Homo sapiens: one gene and its partners. The protein of the gene in region 2 purifies or fractionates together with the protein of the main gene of each other region. This does not show direct contact. Each region holds a gene or a part of one and is shown on either strand. Other genes may lie near its edges. The genes, in order: IGF2BP3, SYNGAP1, LIG3, CNTN1, SEC16A, PPFIBP1 and GPHN.

What was found.
Region 1: the proteins of SYNGAP1 (region 2) and IGF2BP3 purify together in Homo sapiens (co-immunoprecipitation; 2 studies listed by BioGRID and IntAct, with this or other methods). This does not show direct contact.
Region 3: the proteins of SYNGAP1 (region 2) and LIG3 purify together in Homo sapiens (co-immunoprecipitation; 2 studies listed by BioGRID and IntAct, with this or other methods). This does not show direct contact.
Region 4: the proteins of SYNGAP1 (region 2) and CNTN1 purify together in Homo sapiens (co-immunoprecipitation; 2 studies listed by BioGRID and IntAct, with this or other methods). This does not show direct contact.
Region 5: the proteins of SYNGAP1 (region 2) and SEC16A purify together in Homo sapiens (co-immunoprecipitation; 2 studies listed by BioGRID and IntAct, with this or other methods). This does not show direct contact.
Region 6: the proteins of SYNGAP1 (region 2) and PPFIBP1 purify together in Homo sapiens (co-immunoprecipitation; 2 studies listed by BioGRID and IntAct, with this or other methods). This does not show direct contact.
Region 7: the proteins of SYNGAP1 (region 2) and GPHN purify together in Homo sapiens (co-immunoprecipitation; 2 studies listed by BioGRID and IntAct, with this or other methods). This does not show direct contact.

Annotation. Positions count from the first base shown.
Region 1 is NC_000007.14:23,313,268-23,317,165, forward strand, and holds part of IGF2BP3 (insulin-like growth factor 2 mRNA-binding protein 3), read right to left. Parts: intron 387-3,898; coding exon 255-386; coding exon of another isoform or gene 202-254; intron 1-201. UniProt on the Homo sapiens protein: RNA-binding factor that may recruit target transcripts to cytoplasmic protein-RNA complexes (mRNPs). This transcript 'caging' into mRNPs allows mRNA transport and transient storage.
Region 2 is NC_000006.12:33,418,664-33,423,028, reverse strand, and holds the start of SYNGAP1 (ras/Rap GTPase-activating protein SynGAP), read right to left. Parts: upstream 2,965-4,365; 5' UTR 2,765-2,964; coding exon 2,698-2,764; intron 2,028-2,697; exon of another isoform or gene 132-2,027; intron 1-131. UniProt on the Homo sapiens protein: Major constituent of the PSD essential for postsynaptic signaling. Inhibitory regulator of the Ras-cAMP pathway.
Region 3 is NC_000017.11:34,983,278-34,987,175, reverse strand, and holds part of LIG3 (DNA ligase 3 isoform alpha precursor), read right to left. Parts: coding exon 3,624-3,898; intron 1,189-3,623; coding exon 1,045-1,188; intron 1-1,044. UniProt on the Homo sapiens protein: Isoform 3 functions as a heterodimer with DNA-repair protein XRCC1 in the nucleus and can correct defective DNA strand-break repair and sister chromatid exchange following treatment with ionizing radiation and alkylating agents.
Region 4 is NC_000012.12:40,695,330-40,699,227, forward strand, and holds part of CNTN1 (contactin-1 isoform 1 precursor), read left to right. Parts: intron 1-3,898. UniProt on the Homo sapiens protein: Contactins mediate cell surface interactions during nervous system development.
Region 5 is NC_000009.12:136,479,861-136,484,422, reverse strand, and holds the start of SEC16A (protein transport protein Sec16A), read left to right. Parts: upstream 1-1,382; 5' UTR 1,383-1,485; intron 1,486-4,562. UniProt on the Homo sapiens protein: Acts as a molecular scaffold that plays a key role in the organization of the endoplasmic reticulum exit sites (ERES), also known as transitional endoplasmic reticulum (tER).
Region 6 is NC_000012.12:27,684,484-27,688,381, reverse strand, and holds part of PPFIBP1 (liprin-beta-1), read right to left. Parts: intron 998-3,898; coding exon 875-997; intron 85-874; coding exon 1-84. UniProt on the Homo sapiens protein: May regulate the disassembly of focal adhesions. Did not bind receptor-like tyrosine phosphatases type 2A.
Region 7 is NC_000014.9:67,105,873-67,109,770, reverse strand, and holds part of GPHN (gephyrin), read right to left. Parts: intron 1,398-3,898; exon of another isoform or gene 1,309-1,397; intron 1-1,308. UniProt on the Homo sapiens protein: Microtubule-associated protein involved in membrane protein-cytoskeleton interactions. It is thought to anchor the inhibitory glycine receptor (GLYR) to subsynaptic microtubules.

The DNA of each region.
Region 1 (3,898 bases), on a different chromosome or scaffold from region 2:
TCAGGAGAACGTTAAATGCCCTTTATAAATATAGGACAATCCTCTCACACAAAGTGATCTGAAAGAGATGCATTACTTTCACTAATAGCTGGCACCAACACTCAGACAGGAAACAAAAGGCAATCTTCTCCAAACCTTGGTCAAGATGGTCCTGCTTTTTATAAATTAGCCAAAATTCGGGGACTTGGAACTCCTAAGTACCTTTCAACGCTTTCCCTTTCATACCACTGCACAGGTTTTGCTGAAGTACTTGCCGTTTTGCCTCCTTTTCCAATAACTCTGCCAGCAGCAAAGGATGGCACTCTGATATGAGCTTCAAGTTTCACCTCTTCTTTAGGACTAACAAAGTTTTCTTCTTTAATTTTTCCATAAATTCTTCCCTGAGCCTGCAGATGAAAACACATCCTATTAGTGTCATTCATGTATGAAATGGAAAAGGTCAGTTAACTTGAAAGATGGCCCAAATCCAAGTGGGATAGCCCTTTGCAGTGATACATCTACATTTCATAGATTGTTGAAAATAACATAGAAGAGAGCAGTTAGAAGTCCTAAAAGGTTGACAATAACTACTGCCCATCACAGTAGAGGCAACTGAATGCTTGGTGAAAGAAGGATAAACCATATTCTTCTGATGAAAACAGTTAAAGGCAATTAATAACCTAATAAAAACGAATTTTTGTGGGCAAATGGCCATTCGTACTAAAATTGTGATAGGTAAAACTTCTCATGCTGGCCATGAGACATCAGTTGCATTTTTCTTTCCTTTTTGTTGGAGTCAGGGTCCTCCTGTTGTCCAGGCTGGAGTGCAATGGTACAATCATAGCTCACTGCAGCTTCAACCTCCTGGGCTCAAGCGATCCTCCTACCTCAGCCTCCTGAGTAGCAGACTACAGGCATGCAACACCACACCTGACTTATTTTTTTTTTTTTTTTGAGACGGAGTCTTACTTTGTTGCCCAGGCTGGAGTGCAGTGGCACGATCTTGGGTCACTGCAACCCCCGCCTCCCAGGTTCAAGTGATTCTCCTGCCTCAGCCTCCTGAGTAGCTGGGACTACAGGCACTAGCCACCACACCTGGCTAATTATTTTTGCATTTTTAGTAGGCATGGGGTTTCACCATGTTGGTCAGGCTGGTCTCGAACTCCTGACTTCAAGTGATGTGCCCACCTCAGCCTTCCAAAAGTGCTAGAATTACAGGTGTGAGCCACTGCGCCACTAATTTTTATAGAGATGGGGGTCTTGCTATGTTGCCACGCTCATCACAAACTCCTGGGCTCAAGAGTCCTGCCTTGGCCTCCCAAAGTGTTGGTATTACCAGTGCAAGCCACCACACCTGGTCACATTTTTTTTGAGCAAAAGAGACAGAACTGCAGAGTCAGCTATGCCAAGCTCACTAAAAGTCAAGCTCACATCTACATGGGCCAGTTAGAAACCTGCTGAGAAAAATGTTTTCAATTTAAATGTGTTTCATACTCTTAGAAAGGTGGTTTTTCCTTTGAATATTTTAAAGAGGCTACAACATCAAGGTAAGACACTTTTTTCTTTTTTGAGACAGAGTCTCACCCTGTCATGCAGGCTGAAGTGCAATGGCATGGTTTCGGCTTACTGCAACCTCCGACCCCCGGGTTCAAGCCATTCTCCTGCCTCAGCCTCCCAAACTAGCTGGGATTACAGGTGCCCGCCACCACACCCAGCTAATTTTTTGTTGTTATTTTAGTTGAGACGGGGATTCACCATGTTGGCCAGGCTGGTCTTGAACTCCTGACCTCAGGTGATCCACCCACCTTGGCTTCCCAAAGTGTTGGGATTATGGGCATGAGCCACTCACTGTGCCCTGCCTTTTATTTTTTTTTATTTTTTTATTTTATTTTTTTTAGAGACAGAGTCTCTTTCTCTGTGGTGCGATCTCAGCACACTGCAACCTCTGTCTCCTGGGTTCAAGTGACTCTCCTGCCTCAGCCTCCTAAGTAGCTGGGATTACAGGCATCCACCACCATGCCTGGCTAATTTTTGTATTTTTAGTAGAGATGGAGTTTTGCCATGTAGGCCAGGCTGGTCTGGAACTCCTGGACTCAAGTGATCTACCCACCTAGGCCTCTCAAAGTGCTGGGATAGCAAGCGTGGGCCACCGCGCCTGGCCAAGACACTTCTGATATTTAGAGTCAATACATCCTATCACCTACTGCATGCAACTATATAAACAACCTATTATATATAAACAACCTATTACATACAGCAAAGCAGAAAGGAGCCTGAGAGTTGGTTTGACAAGCTGCCAGGGTAAACCACAAAAAACAATAGTACCCAACACGCGTTCACTGATTCAGAAAGCTGAGCTCATTTTAGGGCACTACCGACAAAACAAAATTCATCTTGATACCCTATATTCCAATGATCCTTAATGCCTCAGGCCAATGACGTAGATATTACTATTACTTAAGACAGTCAAAAAGACACTAGGGATATACACTATCCTCCAAAACTGAAGCTCTTGAATTTGTAAGGAAAAATACGGGGTAGGTGGTTTACCATTCCTTAGATCTCTAAAGTAAAACATTCATTTAGCATTGTCACCAATCACATAAATAAAATTTAACTACTATGGCTTAAGTGTTACATTTAAGTTAACTATAAAACATGAGTTTTATTAGTGAATACAGGGAAAGAACTTTGAAGTTCCTATCATACAAACATCATAGGAGTTGCAGGACAGTAATTCTACTTATAAGACTAAAAGCTCAGCACCAAGGAAAGACATGTTTGTATTTATCTTTTAAGATTTCAAACTAAAAGTGACCCTGAGAGTTTGGGATAGGAAGCAGTTTTCAACAATTCTGAGTTAAGATTTGAACTGCCTGGATCACAAGGCTGCTGTGAAGGAATAAATTTCTTCACATGATTTTCTTTCTTCACCTAACCACCCACATCTCAAAGCACCTCCTTCGTTTCCCATTCTTCACATAAGTGAAAGCAGCTTTGGGTTTTTAGTGAAAAAATGGCCCAGAGAAAATAGAAGTCAAAGAAAGTGATTTTTTTTGTTTGATTTAAGGGAGAGAGGTGGGGTGGGGAGAGAACTGTATGCACTGTTACTAGTTACTGTTACACTTTAAGGCTAAAAAAACTAAGGCTTGGCCAGGAGCACAGTGGCTGATGCCTGTAATCCCAGCACTTTGGGAGGCTAAGGTGGGCGGATCACTTGAGGTCAGGAGTTTGAGTGTGTGGCCAACATGGTGAAACCCCATCTCTACTAAAAATAAATTGGCTGGGCGTGGCGGCACATGCCTGTAATCCCAGCTACTCGGGAGGCGGAGGCAGGAGAATCGCTTGAACCCAGGAGGTGGAGTTTGCAGTGAGCTGAGATCACGCCACTGCAGTCCAGCCTGGGCGACAGAGTGAGACTCTGTCTCAAAAAAAAAAAAAAAAAAAAGAGAAAAAAAAAACTACAGCTTAAGGTTAAATAGTTGTCTTCTTACACAGCCACTAAATGTTCTAAGACAAGACACCCATACTAAATTTTGTGGGAGAAATCATACACTAAAAGGAATATATTTATGAATTTGGCATGGTCTTAGTCTGATTCATCCATAGTCTGTTGAATACCCCCAGCACGCTAATTTTGTGCTGCCCATGTGTTAGGCACTTTTCTAAACATTTCATATATTGTGTAAACCTTAAACTACCTTAGGATGTAGGTGCTCTTATCCCTGGTTTTACAGAAAAAGGTTAAGTAACTTGCCCAATGTCATACAAGGCAAATGGCAGAGCTAGGATTTGAACTAGCAGCCTGGCTGCCAAGTCTCAGCTCTACCATCTCTCAGTAGACATTGAAAGGCACACTGCAGCCCCAAAGACCTCAAATCCCACTAAACGTGCAATGGTTCATACCAGAACAAATGCT
Region 2 (4,365 bases):
CCCCTCTATAAAAGAGTATGAGGAAAGCTACATGGCTGTGGGAAAGAAGGATGGGGTGTGTGTGTAGGAACATTGGGATCATGAGATTCTGAGGGCTAAATATCTAGAAAAGAAGAAGTCGGGGAGCTTACCTGTTCACAGTCAGAGACATGAGAGGGCCTCCCCTCCCAACTCTTCCCTCCTCTGTGCCCTCCTCCCCTAGTTCAACCCTGCTCATCCTTTAGGGAAAGTTCTGGTTCTTCTGGTGGTAAGGAGAAGATGGCTTTTGTCGGCATCTGGCTGTGGAGGCCCCAGGGCAGAAGGTGGGAAATATGCCCTTGTTTGGACAAGTAGAGACCAAATTTATCTCTTCTCCCATTCAGTGCCCAGAGATTCAACACTGCCCCCACCACCTCACCCCACCTAGTCTCAGTGGACAGGATGGAAGCCACTCCATAGGTCAGGAGCCTTCTCAAGGCACAGTGAGGAGCTTGAGGAAGAAAGATGTCAGGGGGAAAGAATGGAATATCCAGGCCTGGTGACACAGAGGGGCCTCCAAAGACAAGAGCTGGAGATGGGAACAAAACTTTGAGAAGAGAGAACAGTAGACCAAGTGTCGCCTATGGCTGAGATGAGACCAGGGTCCTCCTTCCCCAGCTCTGTTGTTCTTGCCATGCCGCTCTCCCTGCAAACTGCCTCTCCTTTAAACCCCAATGCCACACAGGCCCTATTGAAGTAAGAGAGATGTCACATTGGCGACAGCAAAGAGCTAGAAATTAGGCTTAAGGTATCAGATTTTAGATGGAAAAAAGATCAAACTCTGTCACCTTTATGGGATAACCATGAGTATACTGCAGGAGAACTGGTCTTTGAGCTTCATTCCAACAGAATGCACTGAGTAGCAGAGTTTTGCAAATTCAGCCCTTTTCTGTCTATAAATATGTCTCTCAAATTTACCCAACCTCCAGATCACAGTGAGCGATGAACCCTCAGAATGTCCACCATTTAGAAACCACATACTTTGAAACTCTATCTCAACCCATCTCAGAGACTAACTAATGTTCTCTAGATACAGAGATCACCAATACCTAGCCTCTGAAACTACAGACATTGCAGGCAACATGCCCACCGCACTTAGACACTTGGTATACCCAGAGGAGAAATCTGTTGATACACATAAGCATTTGGGGAAAGGGCTGGTTCAGGCTGCAGCCAAGGGAGGCGGGTTAGACTTCAGAGGGCATCTTTCTCCTGGCAGCAGGGAACTTAGGAACAACTCTAGAAACACACACACACATACTGTCTGGACTTGGTGAAGAATGATTCTGGGAGGCAGATGCAAGAGGCAGAGCAACATGGCTGAGAAACGGGAAATTTTTACTAGGATGAGAAATCCCTCAAGGGCTGAGATGGGGATCCCTTGTTCTAATCATCAAAACCTGTGTCTTTGTACCCCAAATCTCCAACACCCCAATAAGTAGAGGAGACAAGAAAAGAGAAATGATAATAAGAGTTGAGGTATTAAGGGAAAGTGGGTAGGCACAGACTTGTGGTGACAAGGAATGGTCTGGGAGACAAATAATAGGAGTAGATAGAAAAGGAGGCAGAAATGATGGTAAATGCCCAGGGGCAAGGGAATACACCTGAAGGGCTCGACTGGACATGTGTCAGAGCAAAGGAGGCAGACCTAATGCGGAGGCTATGAGAAGGGGTCAAGACGGACTAGTAAAGAAGTGATAGAGATATAAGGGAGCGACCACATAGAAAAGAGATAAGAGAGAGGCAATGAACACCAGAGAGGGGACTGATATAGGGGAAGGACAGAAGGGGGACTCATATAAGGAACGGACACCATATGGGGGGAAAGATATAGGTGATGGACAGCAGAGGAGGGAGGGGGAATGGAAATAAGGATTGGAGGGGTGGGGGAAGGGGGTAAAAGTGATGAAGTGAAGACAGCATTAAGACCCCAGAGGTTACATTTTACTGGTCAAGAGCCTTTAAGAGGGTCAGAGTCTGGGGCAGGATCCTAACCTGTCCCCTACTCCCATCATTTCATCTTACTTGTACTGCCACCCCCCCAAGCACACATAATTTGGCCCTCCCCCTGCCCTGGTCTCCCCTCCCCCACCGTTCCCTCTCTCTTCTCTCTTCCCTCCATCTGGACCCTCCATCCCCCCACCCCCCACTGCCTCCCTCTCTCTCCATCTGGCCCCTTCTCTCCCTCCATCCTCCTCTCTTTTTCCGCCCCTTACCATACTCTGAGTCCCCCACCAAATTATCCCCCCACATCTTCTTGGCTTCTCTTTTCACCCCTATGTTTTCATTTCTCCTTCCTAGCCCCTCTCCCAAGACTCTGTCCCTCTATTTCCTTGATGTTTTCCTCATCACTCAGCTCCCACCCCCAAATTATTTCTGCAGCTTTTTCCCCAACCCAATCCTTCTACCTTCCCACCCCTTTCTGGCGCTTTCTTTCCCCTTCATCATTTTCCCTTCAGCCCCCTTTCAAGGCCCATTTCCTGGCCCCTCCATCCCTTATCTACCCCTATCCCTCTGGCCTCCAATCCCTCCTTCCCGGTTGCTCCCACCCCTGCCTTCCCGGTCCTCCCCTCTCCCTCCATTTCAGCCGCTCCCTTCCCTCGGCCCCGACTCTCCCCCGCCCCCTGCCCCTCCCCCTGTTGCCCCCCATATGGCCCTCCCCCTCCCCCCACCACGTACCTCTGAAGGGGGCATAGGACATCGCGGGGATGCTCCCCCGATGGATGGAGGCTCGAGACCTGCTCATCAGGCCTGGGGGGAGGGGGCGGGGGGACGGGGGAGAAAGAAGAGAGAAAGAGGGGGAGAAAGAGGGGGAGAAGGAGGAGGAGGTGGAGGAGGAGGAGGAGGAGAGAGGAGGAGAGAGGAGCAGAGAGAAGCAGAGAGGAGGAGAGAGGAGGAGGAGGAGGAGAATAAGAGCCAACGGCAGCAGCGGCAGCCGAGAGAGAGGGGGGGCGGGGGAGCGAGCGAGAGCGAAGAGAGCAGGAGGAGGAGGAGGAGGGAGAGACTCTGCAGCCCCCACCCCTACTCCGGGAGGCCCAGATTGTGAGAGAGAGAGAGACCCCTGACTCAAAAACACACCAGAGAGAGACAGAGGTCCTAAAGATGCAGACCCCAGACCCTGAGACAGAGAGACCCTAGACCCACAGAGAAAGATACTTCACCACCCCCCACTGTGGGGTAATTTGAGACACAGGGCCAAAATCTAGAGGAAAAGAGACTCCTGATTTGAGGAAAAAACGACCCCAGATCCCCCAGAGAGAGAAGCTCAATATCAAAATCTGAAAATCCAGTCTAAAAAGGGTTCTCCATACCTACAGATATCTTAGACTCCAGACCCTGAGATGATGATTTCAGGGACCAGGACCTGAGACCTAGACTCAGAAAAAGATGAGGCCCAGATTCAGAAAGAGCCAGATGTAGAATTAGAGCTTAGAGAACTCAGACCTAGAAAGAGACCCCAGACTCAGATCTCAGAGACTGATAACTTAGAGACAGAGACACTCCTGACTTAAGGGGAGATAGAGACTTCAGCTGGTCCGGAGATGGACAACTCAGAGACCCAAAATTCATGAAGAAGACTTCGAAAGACCTCAGAGTGCGACCACAGACCCTGAAACATAGAAACCCCCCAAACCAGAAGCATAAAAGGAAACTCAATCCTAAGAAAGATCTCCACACAAATACTGAAAGACCCCTCCGAAATCTGTCTCAGAGACAAACTCCAAACTCAAAGACAGAGATCTCAGGGAACCTCCCCTCCCCACTTCCCTGCCCTAGAACCTCCGAGAGGTATAACCCTGACGTCAGCCTGGGAAACTCCGAGGCATCCCCACCACCAGACCAATGACCTCAGACCTTGAAGGGAGGGGAAATATTGGGTGGGGGCAGTGGCAAGAGCTTTTTTCTCTGCACCTCCTCCCACCTCTCTGCCTCTCATTGGCCCCTCTCTCCATTTTTGGGTCACAGGATGTGCTTGGGCCCCAGGGAAGTTATGTAGGGCAGGTCCTGGCTCCTTGGGGGATGGGTTAGGGAAAGGAGACCCGAGGCTGAGAGGTGGACCAATCCTGGGGAGTGGAATAGGCAGGGAAGAGGGGACAGAAGGACCATCACCACTGTCCCCATCCTGCAGCCCTCGTTCTCCTTCCCTCTGATTCAGTAGTCTGTCTCAAGCTTTGGGTTTTCAATTAAGATGGCTAGGCCCCATTTTCACCATCCTCTACCACAGGGTCTCGCTCTGTTTTAAAATGCTTCTTTCCTCAGCTAGCTATTGTCTTGCCATGCCCGTGCCTGCCTAATCACTCCCTGCTACCCAGGGACAGCGGGCTTCTAGATCACCGTTGTTCATTC
Region 3 (3,898 bases), on a different chromosome or scaffold from region 2:
TCTATGAAATAGTAATTCTATATTTTATATAAAAGAAACTATATATGTGTGTATACACGTGTGTGCATGTGTGTATTTTAGTGAAGAGAACAGGAAACTTAACACTTTATTGTTCATCTGTCCTACAAATAATAGCCACAGTCCTCCCCTTTAGGAGATGGGATTTGAACCCAGAGCTCACTGATTCCAAAGTCTGCAAGCTTCATCCCTAGGCTGTACTGCCTCCCAACAAATAGCAATATCCTTCAGATCTTTTTTTCCTTCCTTTGTGTTCCATGAAGTTCCAGTGTTTTGAATAAACAGTTTTAAGAATCAAGAAGGGAGATCCATGCATGACATCTCCCTTCTTTCATACTTTCATTTCTAGGCATATTCAGGGAAACAATTTCTCAAAATTCTTTCATTATCAAAACACAAGGAAGTAAAAGACAGGTTCTAATAATCTCTGTCTGGCCCAGGTAACTATTTCAAGGGGAAAAAGTCTTGACAAAACAAATCTTTCCGCTGCGATAGAGGTTAAAGTATACAAAGAAATGCTATACAAGTGGAATGCTGGCCGAGCGCAGTGGCTCACGCCTGCAATCCCAGCACTTTGGGAAGCTGGGGCAGGTGGATCACCTGAGGTCAGGAGTTTGAGACCAGCCTGGCCAACGTGGCGAAACCCCATCTCTACTAAAAATACAAAAATTAGTCAGGCATGGTGGCAGGTGCCTGTAATCCCAGCTACTTGGGAGGCTGAGGTGGGAGAATCGCTTGAACCCAGGAGGCGGAGGTTGCAGTGAGCTGAGAATGCACCACTGCACTCCAGCTTGGATGACAGAGCAAGATTTCATCTCAAAAAAACCCCCAAAACCAAAAAACAAACAAACAAACAAAAACCAAGCGGAAGGCTTAGAATTAGCCATTACCAGTCTCTGCTCAGACAGAAGCAAATTATTAATGAGATGAGATAGCACAGAATTTTCACTCTTTAGCCAGAATCCTAGGTAGAATACAAAATAAAAGCAGCACTATAACAGCTAAAGTAGCCCTAACCTATCTTACCTGAAAAGCCAGAAAATTTCCGGGGATTGGTACTGGTGACAAATGAGGCGCCTTTCACTGGAGAAGTCACCTGGCCAGTGGTTGTCAACTTAGCCTGGACAACAGCTTTCTTCTTTGGTGTACCTGCTGCCTTAGAAGACAGATCTGTAGGATCCCAAAAGAGTATAAAATATCCTTCAGTGAACGATCTCTGAAAAAAACATCCAAAGAATCTATCAACTGCTCCTAGGGCCTTGCTTGTTAAGTCACTACCCTAGCACTAGCCCAAGGCTGGCTGGTGGCTGGTATTTTTTGAGTGGGGGTAGTAGGTAATAGGGTATTGTGGGGACAGAAGGGAAGGATATGCTGGAGACAAAAGATCCAGTTACCATTTATCTCTATTAGTACCTTAAATTTTCATCAACATTCTCCACTTCTTATCCCATATGTAAGTCTCCAGAAATAACAATTTGGGGGAAATCAGAAATCATAGTTTGATGGATAAAACTTAGGGAACCCCCAACCCCACAGAATTAGCTTCAATTTAGAGATGAACAAAAAGTAAATGAGGATCACAGAGCATGTCAACCTAGCATAGGAAGGAAAATTTCCAGATGCTTAGTTATCTGAGTCATGAACTCTACCTGTATTTCTCTTCCTCCAAATGAGAGATGGGTCAAGAAGTAACAAAGGCCGAGGCCAATAGCTAAGGCAGTGCAAGGTGGGATGGGGAGCCTGAGAATAAAGTATATGGGAAGCACAGTTTTCTTTCCCGGAAGTCTTTTTTCCTTTCAAAGAACAAGGACAGATACCCATTTTTAGAGCCATTGTTAACTGTCTTCCTATGGTGACCAGAACTAAGTTGAAGATATGAACATTATTTTACAGACACTGAAGGTCAAAGAGGACTAACTGGATTTGGGGGTATTGGCATAAAATTTCTAAAATATGCATATGTAAATATGCATGTACATGCAAACATGTTATATATAGCCATATATAGGTATGAATTTTACATGCATATACACGCACATATTTTCTAGCTCTGTCTGCTGAAAGGGCTTAGAAACAGACATGCCATGGCTGGGCGCTCAGGCCTGTAATCCCAGCACTTTGGGAGGCCAAGGTGGGTGGATCACTTGAAGTCAGGGGTTCAACACCAGCTGGACCAACATGGTGAAACCCTGTCTCTACTAAAAACACAAAAATTAGCTGGGTGTGGTGTCAAGTGCCTGTAGTCCCAGCTACTTGGGAGGCTGAGACAGGACAATTGCTTGAACCTGGAAGGCAGAGGTTGCAGTGAGCTAAGACAGTGCCACTGCACTCCAGCCTGGGTCACAGAGTGAGACTCTGTCTCAAAAAAAAAAAAAAGAAGAAACAGATACCCCATGACAATGTGTTCACATAGTATCCGGGTTTTACTCTTTAATACCATTTCCCACTAACAGGATAGTGCCACTACACTCCAGCCTGGGTCAGAGTGAGACTCTCAAAAAAAAAAAAAAGAAGAAACAGATACCCCATGACAATGTGGACACATAGTATCCAGGTTTTACTCTTTAACAGGGGCATTTCCCACTAACAGGAATCCCCAGAGAAATTACCAATTTCAGGGCTGGGGAAGGATACATACGGGATAAGACTAAAAGCATCTTGCTATGCTCAAGAGTAAAGAAGTACATTAAAAAAAGTTAATGAAGGTATACAGGACACAGAGGACAGTGTAAAGGGGTTCCTAATTGGCCAAATATGGGACAATTAAGTATCAAATTAGTTAAGTACAGTAATGAATTATATGCTACAAGAAAAAAAGTAAAAGAGGATAGTAATCAGTACTCTATTCTTCCAAAATATCAATGTCATAAAAGAGAGACTATGGAAATATTTCAGATTAAAGGAGGCCAAAGAAACATGACAACTAAATGCAACACCTGATATGATCCTAGACTGGGATCCTATACTGCAGGAAAAGGCTACTGAAGGTATGACTCAATCCATTGACAAAATAGTATACAGATGGTAGATTTAAGTATTACATCAAGGACAAATTTTCTGAAGATGATAGCTATATTATAGTCGCATAAGGGTCATATATCCTATTCTTAAGGTATATACACTGAAGAATTTTAAAGGGCCATGATGTATGCAACTTATTCTCAAATGGTTTAAAGTGAGTGCACGCACACGTGTGTATGTATGTAGAGAGAGACAGCACATGAACAAATATGATAAAGCAAATAGAGTAAAATGTTAATAGGTAAATATGGGTAAAAGGAATATGAATGTTCTTTGTACTATTTTTAATCTTCCAACACTTCAGTGAGTTTAAAATTATTTCCAAATAAAACGTTAAAGGCTGGGCATGGTGGCATGCGCCTGTAATCCCAACTACTTGGGAGGCTGAGTCAGGATGACCTGAGTCCAGCAGTGCAAAGCTGCAGTGAGCTACGAATGCAACATTAAACACTGGCCTAGGCAACAGAGTGAGACCCCATCTCTAAAAGAGCAAAGTTAAAAAAAAGAGAAAGAAAGCAGTTGAACTCCTTATCCCTTTTTCTCTCAGCACCAGTAAGATGAGAAAGCAGTGTTCTCTACCTTACCTGCAATGTGCTGGGTTATCTGTTCCTTCTCATTATCTTCCAGCTCTTCCCAGCCTTCCAGCTCTGTGAGGTCCTCGATTTTTTTTGTGGTGGCCCGGGCCCGCTCTAGTTTCTCAAACATGCATTTAATGTGGTACCACTCTTTCATATCACCCCCAGACTCTGAGAAGGGATTGGGCACCACTTTGCCAATTCGGCATACGCCCTTCACAATCTTTTCCTTGCATTTTTTGCAGCCAGCTGTGCCACGCTTGGCATAGTCCACACAGAACCGT
Region 4 (3,898 bases), on a different chromosome or scaffold from region 2:
AGGAGTAATGGATGACATAAGGTGTTTCTATATCTTTTCATAGAATGACTCGGTTCTACAGTAGGGATTATGACTATGTACTGGTTCTATGTATTCTCTTGTATCTTGTGTCCCTTGAGACCAACTAGGAAGAGCTGAAATAGACAATTTATATTTCTGTATACAAAATATGTCCTGTAATTGCCTTATTTCAAAAAAAATCAACAAATTCTCCAATTTCCATCTATTTCTACATGTAAATTGGCCATGGTCTCTATCATATCCCACAACTTATTCTAACTCACCAGTAAGCTCCTCCTCAATTCCAATGTTTGTTTTCTTTTTATTGATGTATTATCGATTGTTCTCTTCTGACCTTCTATTTTCCATATTGTCCATCTTCTTGAAATTTTGCTCCTTGACACCACAATGCTCTGATAGCGTACTTTTTTCTTAATTTTTCTAACTTTCCTTTCTTTGTCTCCCTCTTATCTTCTCTTTCTACTTCTAGCTTTCAAGCAAATCCCCCAAATTGATGACAATTTATCTTATTGAAAATAAAGTTCTCCTTCTGCATTTCCATTCCTAATCTCCCTCCCATTAGCCATTTCCTTTACACTTACCCTATCGGCTAAGAGCACAGGCTTTGGGAGGAAGCCTGCAGGTGTTAATATTTATGTATCATGATGCAGTTAAGCGAACATCAGCAAGTCAACTGGGGATTATCATAGCACTTACGTGAGAGGATTTTGTGATTTGTAAAATATTAAGTGAGATAATGCGTGTTAAACATTCAAAATAAGGTTTGGCCCATGGTAATTACTCATAAAGAATAGCTATTAATAATAGAAGTGCTATTGTAGCAATTGTAATGCACAAGGTGAAAACTGGTTTTGCTTTTTCCCCATCAATAGGCATCATTCCTAAACTGGCTTTTATCAATGGAGACTACAACTTTACAGGCTTTCTGGCTTGTGGTTAGTTACTTTTTAAGACTTTCTTTCCTCTAGTCCAAGTGTTCACCATATAGTCAGTAATTGATTCATTTTTATTTTCAACTCTAATTTGTATCTTTCTCTGCTTATTCCAGCACTAGTTTCTTCTGGCACTCCATGCCTGGATGAGTCCAGTAGGCAAGTTATCAAAACTTCCAATTTATAAGTCTATCTGCTTTAATCTAAGATGCCATGTATTATTGGTATAATGTGTTTTCAATTTTCATTAGTGCTTCTACTTTCCTTTGAAACTTTCACTGTACTTTAGTTCGTATCTTAAAAAGCACTGATTTTGGAGCAGGAGACTCAGGTTCAACTCCTGACAACAGGACTGATCCGTTGTGTGACCTTGGAAATGTAGCAGCAGGAGGATGGGGCATTATTTCACTTCAATAATATGAATGACCAACTGTGTAAAGTTACACTCAAAAGTCTATCTATTTAATATTCAATTGAAAATAATATCTTATTATTATAAGGACATCTAAAATCATTAAAGAAATACTGGGAATAAAGAAAAATCCACCAAATTCCGCAGTACAAAGAGATCCTATTTCAATCTTCTAGTCTTATTTCTATTAATATAAATAGGTATTTTTCAATTATAGATTTGAGTTTACAGTGAACATTCACTTTTGTATTTAGCTTTTTAAACTTAATATACCATAAACATTTATTCATTTCATTTAATATTCTTACTATCCATGTGTTTTTTGGCTGTCAATATTCTATGATAGATCTTCAGATTGTTTTCAGTTTTGCATCGTCAAGAACATGAACCTTTGTATACATTAATATTTGCATTTCTGACCATTTCCTTATGACACCTTAGAAGTTACCCAGGCAAAAGTGTAAATATTTTTAGCCTCATAACACTTACTGCCAAATTGCTTCCCCCAAAATGTAAGCACAGATTTATTCTCTACCAGTGGTTGTACCAGTTTGGCCATACTCTCATTAACACTTGATATTATTTTTAAAAATTGGGATCATTTTGATAGTACAAATTGTGTATCTAGTTATTCTTCTGAGTTATTGTTCCTATGATTTTGGATGAGTTCAAAAATGTTATATTTATAGGTTCTTTGTATTTTTTAATTTGTGAATTTCATTTGACTCTTTATTGGAGTGTTCATATTTTCTTCATGTAATAGGAAATCTGAGGTATACTGCAAAAATTGTCTGCATCTTGTTCTTTGCATTTTAAAAAATGCTTTCTAACACACAGAAATGTATAGCTTTACTGTAGTTTATAAATCTATTTGCAGTAGTGTCTCTTTGTAGCTTTCAGGTTCAGAAAACTTTCTACCACTTAACGGAGAATTGAATATAAAAACAACATGTGACGGTGCTATTGCTGAACTTCTTTCCTCCTTTGAAGCAGAATCTGGCTTATGTATATCATATGTATATCCCAGTGCGAAATGGCTCTGGGGACACATAAAATCCACTCAGTCTATTAAGATCCTATTATTCTTTAGGCAGCTCTCCCATGAAGTGAATAGTACCTTAATTCTTTCTGAGCTACTATTGTCCATTTTAAAAGAGCCACAGGGCAGAATGCACTATGGAAGATATTAATGGCCAGGTTACTCAGCCAGAGCAGGGCACATTGTTTGCACAATTATCTGAATGACTCAGGCACTAAATCTGCTTCTGCCAGGATTATCCAGATGGTCCTTAACTCAGTAGATAATTTTTCACTCCTGTACTTGATTTTGATGGTGTAGACCTGAGCATGTCACCACTTTTCCTGCACTGTCTTGTTACTACTCAATTTGCTTAGGGCTGGTTGCTTTAGTTTCTTTTATGAGAGGCAGGTTTGCCCGGTTCTCCAGAGCATAGGTGTTAAGAGTTATGCAGAGCTTTGCATGAAACCTAGCTCAGTCAGTTACTAGCAGCGTGCTTTGAGGCCAGCCACTTAATTTTTTTTTTTTTTTTTTTTTTTTTTTTACGGAGTCTCGCTCTGTCGCCCAGGCTGGAGTGCAGTGGCGTGATCTCAGCTCACTGCAAGCTCCGCCTCCTGGGTTCACATTATTTTCCTGCCTCAGCCTCCCGAGTAGCTGGGACTACAGGTGCCCATCACTACGCCCAGTTAATTTTTTTGTATTTTTAGTAGAGATGGGGTTTCACCGTGTTAGCGAGGATGGTCTTGATCTCCTGACCTTGTGATCCGCCCGCCTCGGCCTCCCAAAGTGCTGAGATTACAGGCGTGAGCCACCATGACCGGCCATGAGACCAGCCACTTAAATTTTTTTACAACATTGTTTTCTGTGTAAGAAACATATTCAGAGTTTGAAGTCCCTATTTCATTCTCCTCCCTCATAGTCGCCTTCTTCTAAGTACATTCTATATGTCATAACCACAGTTGTCTTTCTAAAACCAATTTCATCGTATTCTTCCTCTGCTGAAAATTTTTTGAGTTAGTTCCCCTTTTTTTGTATTAGTAAGATGTCTGAAGTCTTTTGCATTGCACCTAAAGTCCTTTATTAAATGGTACGTGGTAACTTCTCTAGATTCATTTTCTGATTAATCAAATTTCTTCCATCTCCAATCTCCCGTAATGTCAATCAACTGAACGGTTTGCCTTCTCCTAATGCATCTTGTTTCCTCTTTTCTCGCAACACCCTCCCATGTTCCCCATGTTCTATTCTCTACTATAAATAACCTGTTTTCTTGTCTGCTTTTTAACTGACCTAACCTTTTCATGCCTTGGGTCAGGTGCCACCATTTCTTGGAGGACTTCCCCTGAATTCCCAGTCTTAAATTTTGACTCCCTGTGGATATCCCTGCCGTGTCACTTACCATACTATATTGTACTGATTGGTTACTTGTCTCTTGCCTCCACCGTAAGTCCTTGAGGATAGACACCATATGTTATTTTTCTTTGTGTCTGATAGAGGACCTGACATAGAGTTGATACT
Region 5 (4,562 bases), on a different chromosome or scaffold from region 2:
CCTCCCTCGGCTCCTCCGAAAAATGAGGGCACAGAGGATAGTGCCCACCTGTTCCCTGCGATCTTCCGCGGGAGGGCGTGGATGCTGCCTGGCCTGGCCGTGGCAGGCACAGGAGCGCCTACCCGCCTCACCCCTCCGCTGGGTCGCTCTGGCCGCCCGAGCGCCCGGGCCCACTCGCCACCGACGTGCACTCAGCCAAGGCTGGGACCCCAGCGCCCCTGTGGGGCTGGCGGCCGGGGGAACGAACCGAGTAGGCCGCACCTCCCCGGGAGGACAGCAGGGCTGGGGCCAGGGTGGGCCTGGGAGGGCCCGGCGCAGCAAAGGCGCAGGGCGGAGCTTGGGGACGAGGAGCCCGCGCGTCCCCCTTGCGAGTCGGCGGACACCCGGCTCCGCGCGGTGGCCGGGCCGCCCCTCCCTGCCCGGGCCTCTGTGCAGAGCGAAGGGACAGTAGAGGATGCGTCGGGGAAACCCCAGGACGCTGGCCAGGGACTGGCGGCAGCCATCGACCAACTTCCGGCGCCGCTCGGTGCCCGCGGCCACGCCGTAACCAGGCAACCAGCGCGCAGGCGCAGTCGGCCCTCCGCGTCCCGCAGCTCCGGCCGCTCCCGGCGCATGCGCGGCCGCCGCCGCCTGCCCTCCAGCCTCCCAGCCCAACGGAAGAATGCGAGGAGCGCGCCCGCGTCAGGGCCCCGCGCTTCTCAGCTGGGCGGAGTAGCCGTTCTCGGTGCGTGAGCCTGCTGGCATCGGTCCTGCAGACTGATTTCCCGCTTGTGGCCTTGATTGAAGAATCCCATCTCTTCTCACATCTTAAAACGAAAAAAGACTGGGAGAAAGAGCCAGCGTAAACAGGGCGACGTACTGGGACGGCCCCGGCGCGCCTGGCCGGGCAGGTGGCGAGGGGCGGGGCCAAGCGGTGAGGCGGCAGACGGACGCCGGAGGGGGGCGGGGCCACGGGCGGGGAAGGACGGCCGAGGGGCGGGGCCAAAGGGGCGGGAACGACAGGATGAGGCGGAGAAAGACGGACGACGGGCGGGGCTAAGGGGGCGGGACGAAAGAATGAGGCGAGGAACGACGGAAGAGGGGCGGGGCCAAGGGGAGCGGGAACTACAGGATAAGGCGTGGAAGACGGGCGGGGGGCGGGACGAAAGAATGAGGCGGGGAAGAACGGACGCCGGCGAGGGGCGGGGGCAGAGGGGGCGGGACAGAGGGATGAGGCGGGGAGGACGGACGCCGGCGAGGGGCGGGGCCGAGGGATGGGCTGTGAAGGGCTGAAAGAGAACGCGTCTGGGCCGACGAGCCGAGGGGCGGGGCCAGGGGCGGGGCGCGCGCTGATGTCGTAAGCCGGACACGTCGGCGGCGCGGCGGCCGCGGAGACCCGAGCCGGATGTGCCAAGATGGCTGCGGCGGCTGAGGTGTCTGTGCTCGTCGCCAGCGTCGGGTGGGCTTTCGCCCGCGGCTCCTGAGGGATCGGTCTCAGCCGCGCGGGTGAGGGGGCGAGCGCGGGTGAGGGGGCGAGCGCGGGAGGAGGAAGGCGGAGGCCGGCCGGCGGAGCCAGGCCGTGGAGGTCGGGGCGCGGAGGAGAGGAGGCGGCTGGGCCCAGCCCCGAGCGGGCGGTGCATCTCGGGTCCCGCCGGGGCCGGTCGAGGGGACAGACGTCCGGGCCCCCGGGCCAGAGCGGAAGGCCGGACGCGGCGCGGGCCGCCGTGGGACTCGAGGGACTGACGTGGACCCGGCTGGGCTGCGGTGACGCCGGTTCCCGGGGCGGGAGGCTGGACCCCCAGGCACCCCTCGTAAGACTCTTAACTTTTCAAATGAGCGTGTCTTGTCCTCACCGGCTAGAAGGCTTCCTTAGCGATGCTGGTGAAGAGACACATTTACATTTGAACCAAAGAGCAGAGTTGTTTGTTTGTAATTTCTTGATTGGGCGATCAGGATGTTGCAACAGAGGCCGAGGGTTAGAGGAGTGTGTGTGATCCGGCTCGCCCCTTTGTGATGGAAGTGTTACAGTAGAGCCTTCAGAAACATCAGAGCCATTTAAAGTCAGTTTTTGCCGCTTAAGAACACTTTTAAATGGCTTGTAAGTTGGGTGTGGATTGTATATTAAGATTTTGTTTTACATGTGTGATGCCGATGTTAACCAAAGAGGTATTTCCCATCCCCCATGTGGCAATACGAAGCAAACGGAACCGCAGACGGTTCTTCCTAGAAGTGATACTTTTGCAAGTTTCAGCACAATGCAGCCTCCCTGCGTTTTTTCCTCATCCCCTTTCTTAAGTTTCAGGTGCTGGTATCTTGTAGACAAGAGGCAAAATAGCGTGTCTTTCTTGTTCCTTGTTCCTCGTTTACTGTTAATAGTGGTTACTACAGTGAGTCTCAAAATTGTACTTAAAGTTTTCTTTGAGGCAGTGGGCACTTTTTTTTTCTTTTTCTTTGTCTTTTTTTGCCAAATCCAGCAAGAGGTCATGGTAGTGGGTAAATGTTAATGTGATTTCTTCTTCTGTAAGCATCTTTCATGAATACCAGGGTCTTCGTCATTTTCATCAGTGTTAGGCTGCTGGCCTCCTCTGTCGCTGGCTTCCTCTTCAACATCTAACTGTATGTGGTTGCGATTCTAACTTAGAAGAGTTGGAGTTGATCATGTCTTTGTGTCAAGCATCCCACAGTCTGACAGGGCGTCACTAGCAGCCACCGTGAGGGAGACTGTAGGCAGTAGGTAAACTCAGGGGCTTCCTGGCACACTATTGTTTTCCTCACTTAAAATATGAAGCCAGTGGCAGCAAGAGGAGAGGGGTGTGCATGCATTTTAAATGCCTCAGTTCTGTAGCCAGAACTGTACTAAAAAGAGTTTTGCTTAGGTATCCACATGGTTACAAGGCAGTTTAACTGACTAGCTAGGTTTATGAATACTGCATTTTCAAGATCAGCTGGCCTCTTTGGAACAATAAAAGAATTAGATGACTTGAGGTTACAGAATAAAATTCCCTGGGCCGGGCGCGGTGGCTCATGCCTGTAATCCCAGCACTCTGGGAGGCTGAGGCGGGCGGATCACGAGGTCAGGAGATCGAGACCATCCTGGCTAACACGGTGAAACCCCGTCTCTACTGAAAATACAAAAAAAAATTAGCCGGGCGAGGTGGCGGGCGCCTGTAGTCCCAGCTACGCTGGAGGCTGAGGCAGGAGAATGGCGTGAACCCCGGGGGGCGGAGCCTGCAGTGAGCCGAGATCGCGCCACTGCACTCCAGCCTGGGTGAAAGAGCAAGACTCCGTCTCAAAAAAAAAAAAAAAAAAAAAAAGAATAAAATTCCCTGTAGTGGTGACATAGGTGATAGGCAGTTGCATTGTTTTTCTCCTGGTGAGTAGAGAAAAAGATCAAAAAAATCAGTTCAAGTCACAAGATTGTTCCAAATGAAAGTGGCATGTTGCTAAAAAGCTCTCAATTAGGGAGCATGAAGGTTGGAATGCTCCTTGTAAGTGATAATGTTTGCCATAAAAAAGCTCTTAGTCTAGGAGAGCTGCGGAATAATTTTTTTTTTTTTGAGACGGAGTCTCGCTCTGCCCAGGCGGGAGTGCAGTGGCGCGATCTCAGCTCACTGCAAGCTCCGCCTCCCAGGTTTACGCCATTCTCCTGCCTCAGCCTCCCGAGTAGCTGGGATTACAGGCGCCCGCCACCACGCCCGGCTAATTTTTTGTATTTTAGTAGAGACGGGGTTTCACCGTGTTAGCCAGGATGGTCTCGATCTTCTGACCTCTTGATCTGCCCGCCTCGGCCTCCCAAAGTGCTGGGATTACAGGTGTGAGCCACCGTGCCCGGCCACCCCTGTTAAACAGCAGGTGGGATTAGGACATCCCAGAATCCACTGTGAGTAGAATCTCATAAGATTAAACCCGGGTTTTTTAGGAAAAAATAATCACATCGATTCTCGCATTTTATAGACAAAAATACATTGCAGAAAGAGGAGTGGCTGCCTCGAGCCACTCACCTGGACACTCAGTTTTGCTCTCACAGCAGCAGCCAAGGAATAAACCTCTAGGCCCGTGCTCTGTGTTTAAAGCAAACAAAAGCTTTTGAGGATGATAAGGATCTTCCCGGGGAAGGCCATGTCTTGAGAGATGAGGTAGGACCCCAGTTCTGGCAGCAGAGTTTCAGGAGGTGCTTGGAAGTTTGCGTGTTCTGGCCGTGGTTGCAGGTGTCGCTGTGTCTGCTGTGGCTGTGCAGCTGGTAGGACCCAGTGGAAGATAATGCCAGTGCACAGATCAGAGGAAGATGCTCTGCCTGTTCTCCTTTCAGTCCATATAAAATAGAGCTGTGAACATTCTTTGTTTTCAGATGAGAGCCTAAAACCTCCATGAAGCCTTTGCTGCTGTTCCTAGTAAATAGCTTGACTTAAAATACATTGATCAGTGTTTTCTTCTTTTTTTTTTTGAGACAGTTTCACTCTGTCGCCCAGGCTGGAGTGTTGTGGCTTGAACAAGGCTCACTGCAGCCTCAACCTCCCTGGCTCAAGCGATCTTCCCACCTCAGCCTCCCGAGTAGTTGGGACTACAGGCACGCACCACCACGA
Region 6 (3,898 bases), on a different chromosome or scaffold from region 2:
ATATTCTGCCAAGTCCACGGAGCGCAGCCACTCCATCACTCGATGGTTAGTCCACTTCTGAACTTCTGATGGGGCGATGGTATTCTATGGGAACACACAACCAGGATCCTAAATATTAAATTGCATTTTCTGTCTAAAAAGTCTGCTCCATGGAGTACAGTTACTCAACAACCCACTAAATGCAAAAAGAAAGGGAAAAATTCTCTTTTAAAGAATTTCTGTCATAGTTTGAGTTTCAAGCTTTCTTATATACTAATAAAGCATTGCTTTAGGAAAGGAAGTCTTTTTTTTTTTTAAGACAGGGTCTAATTCTCTTACCCACGCTGGCGTTGCAGTGGTATAATCAGGGCTCACTGCAGCCTCCATCTCCCAGGCTCAGACGGATCCTCCTACCTCAGCCTCCTGAGTAGCTGGGACCACCAGCGTGCACCCACCATGCCTGGCTAATTTATTATTATTTTTGTAGAGACAGGGTCTTCCTATGTTGCCCAGGCTGGTCTTGATCTCCTGGGCTCAAGTGATTCTTCTGCCTTGGCCTCCCAAAGTGCTGGGATTATAGGCATTGGCCACTATACTTGGCCAGAAAAGGAAGTCTTTATAGTGATATTTATCTCTGTTGATTAGAGTCAGGAAAAAAAAATACACCCAAGAAAAGGAAGAAGCATAACTGAAAAAGAACCCTTGGCTTTAGTTACACAAGGGGAACCGTCATGGAGAGAAAAGGAAGGAATACAGAAAAAGCCTAAGAAGTAAATGAGGCTGGATTTTAAGGCTTTTCCTGCAGGCTCCAAGAAAAATGGCTCTTAGTTTCGACACATGGACAGTCCCATGCCTGGGAAGTGCATGCTTATAAACCTCAATCTTAAAACACTACCTCATCAGATGGCCGCCTCCGTAGACAGTTTGGTTCAAAGTTATTGATCCTCAGGACCTGGATGGCCCTTTTGATACTGAGATGGTGTAGCACACTTACAACCTTCAGAGACAGTAAGTCATCCTGCAAAAAAGAACAAAAGGAGGAGCTCACTGTGCTGGCCTGTAGCAGGAGGACTTTCTTAGGGAATCTCAGAAAACTGGAGTAAAAGGAGAAGAGCCCCTCAAACCAATATGCCCCAAGGTCTTGTCAGAACCCACTTTCCCATTTGGAACAAAATCTTCCCCCAAACCCCAGATTAGTATTTTTTGCCAATGAAGCTGACTTCCACCTGTTTCTCTCTCTTCCAGATGCTCTGAGATCTGTAGAACCCCAGGGCTCTGAAAAACACAGTTAGAAAAGCACTTGCTGGGTCACTACAAAAGGTGATCTGCTTTGACTTGATCTGCACATACTACAAACAGGGAATTTATTTGTTTCCTCTTTAGTTTTGAGAACTTTATCGGTGGATAAAGTACTTAGGCTTTGGATAAACTGCCCTCTCTGTTTCCTTTCAGCAGATAGTGAAGAGCGAATGATGCTCATTGGTGAACATGATCAAGAGTTGGCTTTCTTTTTTCATCTTTTTTTTTTTTGGAGAGATAGGATCTCACTATACTGCCCAGGCTATCTCAAACTCCTAGGCTCAAGCAGTCCCCCGGCCTCAGCCGCCCAAAAAGCTGGGATTACAGGCGTGAGGCACCGCTCCTAGCAAGGCTGGGTTTTCTGAACTAAGGCACATCATAATTTTGGGGAAAATCAGAACAGTGCTCTTATTATACTATTCCCTGACCTTAATAATTCTCTAGTTCTAAATTATTTTTTAGTAAGGACCTGTCTGCTATTGAATAGCTCTAGATTATTATGGTTTATCTAGCAGACATTGTGAACAATTTTGGCACAACTATAATCAATCAGTGCAAAGGTTTTGGTCAGAGTCAAGGAGAGAAGAAAAATGAAGTTATAAGTATCACATATATATATTACCAATCAACCCCTTCAAGGAAGAATTTTCACCAGTCTGTGGCTCTTGGGAATATTTTCAAATATACCAAACACACCAAAACAAATTATTTCAGAAGAAGGTGATATTGGGAGCAGTATGAAGATAAGCAACAGTCTACTTCCAAACACACCCAGAAAATAAACAAGGAAAGCATCCATTTTAGACACACCTTTCTGATAAAACACTTCTCATGAAAGAAAGAAAAAAATGTAATCTACTACAGAAATATTTAATAAAAATATTAATCAGTTTAAATCCTTGAGGCTACTAACCAGGCAAAAATTATTTCCTGAAGTTTTTCTGGAGTAATTCCTTAAAAGTAGTGTCTTAAGACATGTTAGAAAGAGTACTTATTTTAATCTAGGATTGAGACACCCATTCCAAACATTTCAGTCTGGACTCTTTTCATCTAACTAGTCTGTCAGCTTAAAAAAATATCTGAATGCACAATGTTTACAGTGTGATTAAAATGTTAATTATTTTTGAAATTCTTTATACTTCGAAGGATTTTAAAAAGAAAGTTTTATTTTATATCAAAACAGACTTTCTGAGTGATTTTCTTCCCAATTTTTTTAAAACTTTTTATTTTAAAATAATTTTAAATTTGTGGAGGAGTTGCCAAAGATAGAATAGAATTCTGTATACCTTTCACTCAGCCTCCTCTAATGTTAACATCTGACATAATCATGATTACATTCATCAAGACTAAGAAATTAATGTACAATTGACTAAATTGCAGACTTTATTCACATTTCACCAGTTTGTCCAGTAAGGTCCTTCTTCTGTTCCAGGATCTAATCCACATTAAAACACATATTTTGTGACTTAGGATTTCTGGGGTCAAATTTTCCAGGGTCATTTACTCTTTTATAGCCATTTCACAGATGCTTCTTGTGATTTTAAGCTTGAATTTGTTCACATTCTCAGGGGGAACATACTCACACTTAGAGAGGGAGGCAAATATTTACTGAATGTGTTCTAGTCATAATCGTGAGCTATTAAAAGCAGGGATCTTGAAACAGCCTGAGTTCAAACTCTCTATGACTTTCTATTGCTAACTGTGGAAACTTGGTTACCAAGTTACCCAACCTCTCGATTCCTTCCTTTATACATGTAAAAAAGTAGGGATAATAATAGTATTATAATACTATAGATACACAGAGTGTGTGTGTGTGTGTATATGGATACACACACACATATATACAAACATGCATATATGTGTATGTGTGTGTATATATATATATACATACTCTATGTATCTACAGTATTACATATGTGTGTATAATACTATGTATATACAGTATTACATAATTATATAGTATATATGTGAACAAATTCAAGCTTAAAATCACAAGCAGCGTATGTGAAATGGCTATAAAAGAGTAAATGACCCTGGAAAATTTGACCCCAGAAGTCGTAAGTCACAAAATGTGTGTTTTAATGTAGTGTCCTAGATTAGATCCTGGAACAGAAGGAGGACCTTACTGGAAAAACTGGTGAAATGTGAATAGTCTTCAGTTTAGTTGATTGTATTAACATCTACGTTAATTTCTTAATTTTGATGAATGTAATCATGATTACGTAAGATGTTAACGTTAGAGGAAGCTGAGTGAAAGGTATACAGAATTCTAGCTTTGGCAACTCCTCTGTAAATCTAAAATTATCTTAAAATAAAAAGTTTTAAAAACTTTTTAATATATATTATACACACTATAATAATATTAGTAATATTAACTAAAAGGGTTATTGAGAATCCAGTATTAATATGAGCAAAATGCTTAAAAGGATGTTTGACACATAGCAAATGTGCAACATACTACACATATTAGTATTATTTCACGCAGGTTTATGTGATGTGCTCATCAAGGTAAGGGGCTTGGGTTCAATGACAGAGAAGAAAAATCCATGAACTGAACTCCAAATTTTTTTGACATTGAGAAATGCCTACTTAAGTTGGCTGTTTAAAACTTGCTACTTAC
Region 7 (3,898 bases), on a different chromosome or scaffold from region 2:
CATTGTGAATAACAATTACAAAAAAAAATCTTCATAACTTATTGAAGTTCTAATGTTTGAGAAATGCAGTACTTTATTAACTAAACTTTTTGGTTAAATAAAGGCAAGCCAGAAATATTTTAATTATTGCCTTTGAAAATATTCTAAAACACATTAGCTCACCTATCAATTAATAATAGAGGTTGAGCAAATATAATTAAATCATTTAAAAATGATTCCAGTGTCTGTAATGACCTAGGTTAAACATTACTTTTGAAAATGAAAAACAAGATTTTCATTGTTTGTGCTCTCATATTGATGGTATAAGAGACAGAACCTTCCCTGCTAACTTCTTACAACATGAGGAAAAGCATTTTTCTGTAAGATTCATCTGATAGATTTGATCTGATAGAGAAGTGATCTGAAAGTCACTTGTCAGGGGCAATGATTTAGACTGGAGTTTGGAAAATGAATGCTTCAAATTCTCCCTAAGAAAAAATCCTGAGACAATATTAATCCCCCCTGCCAAAAGATTCCTTTCTAAAGATGTCTGCCTCATAAGTATAGTCACGTGCTGCATAAGGATAGTTTGCTCAATGTTGGACTGCATATATGATGGTGGTCCTATAAGATTACCATATTTTCTACTGTACTTTTTGTTTTGATAAACAAATACCATTATAATTGCTTACGTATTCAGTAATACTGTAATATGCTGTGCAGGTTTGTAGCCTCGGAGCTACAGGTCACACCATGTAGGCTAGGTGTGTAGTGGGCTACTCATGCAGGTTTGTGTAAGTACACTCTATGATGGTCGGACAACAAGAAAATTGCCCAACAACATATTTCTCAGAATATATCTTCATTAAGTAACTCATGACTCTATTTAAAATCTTAAGTCCCTACAATGTGAATATATTTACCACTACTGAACTATAAGCTTAAAAACTGTCAAGATGGTATATTTAATGTTATGTGTGTGTATGTTTTGTCATTGTTGTTATTTTAACCACCAAAATAAGACAAAGTAAAATAAACCACACACACACACACACACACACACACACACACACACACACCCCTTAGGGAATGGTTAAGAAAAAAAAATACCTTACTACTGAAAGTACAATCAAAGTAAAACAGGAAATTTATTACAAAAGTCTTAAAAATCTTCTCTCCATAATATTATTACTGTAAGCAATACTACCAATAACTAATATTTATTGAACCCACAATCTATGCTAGGTACAATGTTAAGTGCATTATATATTACAGAATATAAGCCTTACAAAGACAAAGATTTGTTTCATTTTCTGTTTGCCTCTCCAGATCACATCATCATTCTCTACTCTGTGCTGTGGTCCAGAAGCTGACCTCTATGGACTATTTTAACCAGTTTCCCACCACTTTGGCGTCTGGTGAGACTCAGCCAAAGGGAGGGGTCAGTAAGAGATGTAGAGGGTAGGAGAGAGACAGAAAAGTAGAGTTTTCATTCCCCTTGCTCTTTTCCTCCTGGGCTGCAGTTTGGTGATGGTTAGGGCATCTCTCCTACTGAGAGCAAGAGCTGCTGTTGGGCAGTCCTCTCCCACAGATATGAATCTTCCCAGGTTCAGGTACCATTGTCTTTCTTTGCTCCTTCAGACTAAGATGTGGTAAGGAAATCTCACTGTTGCTAGCTCCTGGGTGCTGCAGATTCCTTTATTGGTTTCCCTTAACTCCATCCAGACATTGGAGATAGTTTCTAATCTTCTTTAATCATCCTTTTTCCAGACATATTGCTCTGTTATGGCAAGGCTTAGAAAGTATGTTGCACACACTTTGCCAAGCTGAGCACCTACGCATCCCAGGCTGAGCTGATGTAGTCACTCATGTCCTAGGGAAACAGAGTGCTGATTGAGCCAAGATATCCTGACCTACAGGCCAAATAACTCTAGTACCCTGCTTCTCTGGAGCTAGACTATAGCCCCTTAGAGTCTGAGCTGCTGAGATACCCCCCTCTCTGGGGAGTTGAGTCATTTCTGTGTTGATCCTTGGCCCCCCCGGGGATCAAACCACAGCTGCGCTCTGCCATTCTAAGGTATCTGCTGCTTCTGCACCTGGCCTCAGAGTCTGAAGTGAGGACCTGCGTAGCCCCACCATCCAGGGGTCTAGGGTCACTACTACACAGTACCTTATCCACTGTGACCCGAGCTGCTGCTGAGCCCTACTGGCTCTGGTTCCTGAGCTGCGGCCATACCCTGCTCCCCTGGCCAAAACCTTTTTCTTTGGAGTTTGGTCAGTACTACACCCTACCCATGAGGTATAAAATCACAGGTACAACCAGGGCACCTGGGTCCAAGCTGCTAGGGGGTGCCTCAGTCATAAACCTTGGTTCTTTGGATAACCTACACCCAACTCTGCCACAGAGAGTGAACCTGAACCCCAAGAACCAGGTGCCACAATGGATTCACAAGACCCTGAGCCTTGGATCCTGGCTCCACAGTCACTCCAAGCACCATATTTTGAGCCCAGTGCCACTGTAGCTGCTTGGAGGGCATGTCAGACCTAACACCAAGAGGGATCCCTTCAGCTGATTCTCCCTATTGTGTGGAAAACAAGAAGAGGAGGACTCTAAAAGCCCTTGACACCAAGGATATTAACAGCCTATGCCACTACTACCACTGACACAAACTTCTATGGATTAGGCCACTGAGGTACTCACAGTTATTACTGACATTGAATGCAACTGAAAAAGCTGCAAGGAGACTACACCATTGCACCTGTCCAGAAAGTCACCATACCCTTTGCAACCAACACACTAAAGCCCAACTACAGGCGTCTCTACAAAACCACCCAGAAAGTCTGAAAGAAGCAAAAGTTCCACTAGGCACACAGATCAACATGGGGACACAAGAAACACAAAAAAGCAAGGAAATATGACACCACTAAAGGAATACATCTCTAGTAACAGACTCCAATGAAAAGGAAATCAATGAACTCCTGGAAAAGAAATTGCAAAATAATGATCTTAAGGAAACTCAATTAGATAAAACAAAAACAAAAACAAAAACAAAACCTAGCGATAATTCAACAAAATCAGCAAAACAATTCATAAGAATGATAAATTCAACAAAGATAGAGAAATCATAAAAAAGAACCAAACAGAAATCCTACAGCTGAATAATTCAAAAAATGAAATAAAAAATTACAATAGAGAGCTTCAATAGCAGTCTTGATAAAGCAGAAGAAAGAATCTTTGAACTGGAAGATAGGTTGTTTGAAATACCCAGCAAGAGAGAGAGACAGAGAGAAACAGAAGAATGAAAAAGAGTGAAGAAAGCTTGTAAGACTTATGGGACACCATACAAGAACAAATATTCATATTATTGGAGTTTCAGAAAAAAAGAAAGGAAAAGGCATAAGAAACTTATTTAATAAAATAATAGCTGAAAACTTCCCAAGTCTGGGGAAAGGTATGGATATCCAGGTCCAGGAATTCCAAAGGTCTCCAAATCAAGTCATATATAATGAAATCCACATTAGACTAACAGTAGATTTCTCTGCAGAAACCTTACAGGACAGGAAGAAAGGAGATAACATCTTCAAAGTGCTGAAATAAAAAAATTTCTAACTATGAATACTATATGCAGCAAAGCTATCCTTTGGAAATGAGGGAGAAATAGTCTTTCCCAGACAAGCAAAAATGGAGAGAATTCATTACTACTACACTGGCCTTACCATAAATTCTCAAGGGAGTCATATATCTGGAAGCAAAAAAGACAATAATCACTATCATAAAAACACACACAAGCATAAAACTCACTGGTAGACCAGATTAATAAAGGAGAAAGAGAAAAGAATAAAACAGTATCAATGTAGAAAACCACCCAACTGCAATGATAAACAATAAGAGAAGGAGCAAGGGGTAAGCAAAACCAGG